Linked DNA regions of Homo sapiens: region 1 is linked to region 2. The links come from fine-mapping of genetic effects on gene expression. Tissue or cell type: whole blood. Region 2 holds a variant in brackets; the other region holds the start of a gene. All regions are shown on one strand. Distances are between the middles of the regions.

Evidence for each region. PIP is the estimated chance that this variant, and not a neighbour inherited with it, causes the effect.
Region 1: it holds the start of FLYWCH1, and the variant in region 2 is fine-mapped to the expression of FLYWCH1 in whole blood (TOPMed, PIP above 0.99). The same link has a PIP of 0.9 or more in blood mononuclear cells, breast, cerebellar hemisphere, cerebellum, esophagus mucosa and fibroblasts.

What each region holds. Positions count from the first base shown.
Region 1 is chr16:2,910,438-2,913,040 of GRCh38, forward strand. It overlaps FLYWCH1 (FLYWCH-type zinc finger 1), which reads left to right and starts at 1,494. Exons shown (of 10, transcript NM_001308068.2): 1 at 1,494-1,717. RefSeq lists silencers at 1,245-1,304, 1,355-1,664, 1,685-1,834, 1,865-1,964, 1,938-2,127.
Region 2 is chr16:2,942,545-2,945,147 of GRCh38, forward strand. The region is part of intron 9 of FLYWCH1 (FLYWCH-type zinc finger 1); the gene reads left to right. It overlaps FLYWCH1-AS1 (FLYWCH1 antisense RNA 1), which reads right to left. Exons shown (of 4, transcript XR_007064947.1): 3 at 783-940. Among named protein-coding and RNA genes, the nearest start is that of FLYWCH1-AS1, 12 kb to the right of the region's middle. The variant C/A (reference allele first, on the strand shown) is at 1,275.

The sequences.
Region 1 (2,603 bases), 32 kb before region 2:
AAAGAGTCTCACTATGTTGCCTAGGCTGATCTCAAACTCCTGGGCTCAAACGATGCTCCTGTCTCAGCCTCCCAAAGTGCTGGGATTACAAGCAAGAGTCACTGTACCCGGCCAACATGGATGAACTTTGAAAGTGCTATGCTAAGGCTAGGCGAAAGAAGTCAGTCACAAGAGACCACATATTTGTTGCATGATTTCATTTATATGAAATATGCAGAATACGCAAATCTATAAAGACAGAAAATAGATCATATTACTTAGGGCTGGGGTGATTAGCAAATTGGAGGGTGGTGGCTAAAGGTTTCTTCTTGGAGTGATGAAAGGTTTTAAAACTGACTATGGTGCTGTTTGCACAACTCTCTGACTATACTACATATCATTTAATTGTACACTTTAAATGGGAGAAATGCATGGTATGTGAATTATATTTCAATAAAGATCTTACCAAAAAATAGTAAGCTGATTGTGTTAACATAGTTTTATGAAAAAGTACAATATTTTCCCAAAGAAATTTAGTGAGACGAGTGACATAGTTATACATTTTTGCAAATATCTTTGTTGCGGGCTTAAAAGAAGACTACTGGCTCTCATACCTGCTTCTACATTCAATGTGTTACATCACACGTCATGCAGACTTTGTAATACTATGTAATATTTCTGCTTTTTTTTTTTTAGACACAGTCTCACTCTGTCGCCCAGGCTGGAGTGCAGTGGCGCCGTCTCGGCTCACTGCAACCTCCGCCTCCCGGGTTCAAGTTATTCTCCTGCCTCAGCCTCCCGAGTAGCTGGGATTACAGGCGCCCAGTACCACGCCCGACTAATGTTCGTATTTTTAGTAGAAACGGGGTTTCACCATGTTGGCCACGCTGTTCTCGAACTCCTGACCTCAGGTGATCCACCCGCCTCGGCCTCCCAAAGTGCTGGGATTACAGGCGTGAGCCACCGCGCCCGGCCCAGGTATTTTTTTGTCGTTGTTGGCTTTCTGATGTAAGAAACAACTGTCCCTTCTCCCCCGTTGACTTATTTCCTTCAGTTTGGACTCATATCGTAGTCAAGGTTATAATCCGTTGCTATCGCTGTTTATTTGAATCTCACACTGGTTCCGCTCTGGGGTAGGGTCACTGGGGGCGTCAATGAGATGCATGAGAATCGCCTTCCCACGGGGTCAGGAAACTGACAGGCCCAAGAGTGCATCTCAGCAAACGCTCCGTTTCCTGCGGGCAGCCTCAGATACTGGGGACCGTCCTGGGGTCTCAATTAAGCGCCCCCTACCCCAGCCCCTTTACGCCAAGAGCGTCCTGTTCAGCTCCCCCATCCTAGCTCCGCCCCTGGACGCCGCCGTCCAATCTCGGGATGGCCCCGCCTTTTCCGTGAGTTACGTCCCCGCCCCCATGCGCTGACAGGCCAGGCCTGCGGCTCGGCGCCGCGCAGGGAAGACCCGGAGCAGCGGTTTACCTAAGGAACGGGCCGCGCGGTCTTGCTGCGCATGCTCTGAAGTAGCGCGCCTGAGCGTTCCGCAAGGCCGGCTCCCCGGCGGGGTCGCGCGCGCGGTCACGGGGCTCGCTCCCGAGGGGCAGGTCGGGGCTGGGAGCTGGTGCCCGGGTCGGGGTGGCGGCGGCGGCCTGGGTCGCGGGGTCGACGCTCGCTGCTGCAGCGGCAGAGGCTGAAGGATCCGCCGCGGCGCTGTCGCGGGAGAGGGAGGGCCCCGCTGCCGTCGGTGAGGACAGGCCCCTGCGGGCGGGGAATGTCCCGCGTCCCCGGCGTGGACGCGCCCGCAGCCCGGCTCTCCCGGGGGTCCCGAGGGTTGCGGGTGCTGGGGAGGGGTCTGCGTCCCGGCGCTCAGGCCGCCTCCTGTGGGGTCTCCCGCGATTCCCTCCTTGCTCCTCGCCCCTCCATCCCCACCCCCCCGTCCCCTGGCCTAAGCCCGACACCCCCACATCAAGGATCCCCGCACTCGTCCGCCGTTTCCTGGCGGTGTCTGCCCCGCCCAGCGCTGCCTTCCTGGACCCGCAGCATCAGCCCCGTCCCACGGTTGCAGCTCGGGCGGTCCCAGTGACCTTGCACTTTTGCGGGTCGGGACGCACCCCGCTCCCGCTTCTGACCCTATAGATCTCCGGTGACGGCTTTCGAACTTTGTTGACCCACAGCCGACACTGAGAAATGCCTTTTACGCGTGTACTCTGTGCCTGTGGGTCTGGATGACTGAAGCACAAGTTTAAAGGGAGACGCTTGTTTAAGCTCACATGACGCAGCTGGATCTGTTCGGATTAAATTCCGTTCCATTCTCTTCCACCCCGTTCCAAAAGGCTGCTGCTAACCCATGGAGCCTGCACATAACGGGTCTGACGTAGTTGAAACCCTCGCTCTAAACCCTGCCTGTTGTTCCTTTATTCCTTGTACTGGAAGCTGAACTCCCATAGTCAGATAATCATGTGCAAACTCCAATTCCAACGAAATGGCTTATTTTTATTTGCATATTTCTGCTTTCCAAGGGCCAATATGATTTCCAGGGCTTGATCTAGATTTTCTCGTGTGATTATATCATGTTTCTCTTGTTCCTTTCCCAAGTGCTACTGGCGGGACGTGTGGAAGGAACAAGGCTG
Region 2 (2,603 bases):
AATACCAGCAAACAGAATCCAGCAACATAAAAAAGGATTATATACCATGACCAAGTAAGATTTATCCCAGGAATGCATCAACATGCAAAACCAATTAATGTAACACAGCAGGCCTGAGACTGCTGCCCTAAGAACAGCCTGTGTGCAAGGTTCACCCTTGGCTGGCATCTGGGAACTTTTTTTTTTTTTTTTTTTTTTTTGAGACGGAGTCTCACTCTGTCGCCCAGGCTGGAGTGCAGTGGTGTGATCTTGGCTCACTGCAAGATCACTGTGAGTGATCCCAGGTAGCTGGGATTAGAAGTGCGCACCACCACGCTCAGCTAATTTTTGTATTTTTAGTGGAGACGGGGTTTCGCTATGTTGGCTAGGCTGGTCACGAACTCCCGACCTCAAGTGATCCACCCGCCTCGGACTCCTAAAGTGCTGGGATTACAGGCATGAGCCACCACGCCCAGCTGGCATCTGGGAACTTGACTGGTAAAGAGCTCCTATGTGGATACAATACTATCCCCAAATAACAACTGCTCACTCTTTTCTATACAAATCATGTGATATTTGCTGAACACTTGCTTTTCTTCTGAGCCTGGCATTTCGGTGACCATATTCAGTCACGCAGGCACAACGTACCTACATGAGCAACCCCCAGTGAAAACCCTGGACTCCTGGGCTCAGGCAGGCTTCCCTGGTAGAGAACACTTTGCACATGTCACAGCTCGAGGCTGGAGGATTCAGCACATTCTGCGGGAGGGGACCCCAGGGGAGGGGACTCTGGGGGCTTGTACCTGGTTTCCTCCGGCCCTCACCCCAAATGCATCTTCCTGTTACTAATTCTGCGTCGCATCTTTTCACCGTAGTAAATCCCAGCCACTAGTATGATGGTAGGCTAAGTCCTGTGAGTCCCTCAAGTGCAGTCACCAAGCCTAGTGTGTGATGGGGATGCCTGCATACCAGATCAGTAGAGAAAAGGACAAAAACCGTGTGATCACTGAATAGACACAAAACATTTGACAACCTCCAACACGCTTTCATGATAAAAACATTCAACAAACTAGGAATAAAAGGAGTTTCTTCAGCCTGATCAAGAGCATCCGTGAAAACCCCCACAAGCAGGCCAGGCGCGGGGGTTCACGCCTGTAATCCCAGTACTTTGGGAGGCCGAGGTGGGCGGATGACCTGAGGTCAGGCGTTCGAGACCAGCCTGGCCAACATAGTGAAACTCTGTCTCTACTCAAAATACAAAAAATTAGCCAGGCGTGGTGGCGAGCACCCGTAAT[C/A]CCAGCTACTTGGAAGGCTGAGGCAGGAGAATCACTTGAACCCGGGAGGTGGAGGTTGCAGTGAGCCAAGATCACGACATTGCACTCCAGCCTGGGCAACATAGTGAGATCCCGTCTCTACAAAAAAATTTAAAAATTAGCTGTGTGTGGTGGTACATGCCCAGCTACTTCGGAGGCTGAGATGGAAGTGTCACCTGAGCCTGGGAGGTTGAGGCTGCAGTGAGCTGTGATCATGCATCTACACTCCAGCCCAGCGGACGGAGAGAGAACCTGTCTCAGAAATAAAAGTAGAGCACGACAGCTCCCACCTGTCATCCCAGCACTCTGGGAGGCTGAGGCGGGCGGATCACCTGAGGTCAGGAATTCCAGACCAGCCTGGGGAACATGGAGAAACTCCGTCTCTACTAAAAATACAATAGCCAGGCTTGGCTACAGGTACAGCGCACCTGTAATCCCAGCTACTTGGGAGGCTGAGGCAGGAGAATCGCTTGAAACTGGGAGGTGGAGGTTGTGGTGAGCCGAGATTGTGCCATTGCACTCCATCCAGCCTGGGTGACAAGAGTGAAACTCCATCTCAAAAAAAAAAAAAAAAAGATCACATACAATTATGTATAGTACCTAATATTTGATAATGATAATAAATATGTTATTAGATTATTTACTATACTTTTTATCATTACTTTAGAATATACTCCTACTTATTTAAAAAGTCAACTGTAGGCCAGCCACAGCATTGGCTCACACCTATAATCCCAGCACTTTGGTAGGCTGAGGCAGGCAGATCCCCTGAGGTCAGGAGTTCCAGACCAGCTTGGGAAACATGGTGAAACCCCGTCTCTACTAAAAATACAAAAATTAGCTAGGCATGGTGGCGCCAGCCTGTAATCCCAGCTACTTGGGAGGCTGAGGCGTGAGAATCGCTTAACCTGGGAGGTGGAGGTTGCAGTGAGCTGAGATGGTGCCACTGCCCTCCAGCCTGGGCAACAGAGTGAGACTCTGTATCAAAAAAAAAAAAAAATTTTTTTTAACTGTAAAACGGCCTCAGGCAGGTCCTTCAAGACTTTTTGGAGGTATCCAAAAGAAGGCACTGTCGTCATAGGAGATGACAGCTCTAAATGTATTATTGTCCCTGAAGACCTTCCAGTGGGACAAGATGTGGAGGTCGAAGATGGTGACATGGATGACCCTGACCCTGTGCAGGCCTAGGATAGTGTGTGTCTTAGTTTTTAAGCAAAAAATTCAAATCCTTGGCCGGGCATGGTGGCTCACACCTGTAATCCCAGCACTTTGGGAGGCTGAGGTGGGTGGATCACTTGAGGTCAGGAGTTC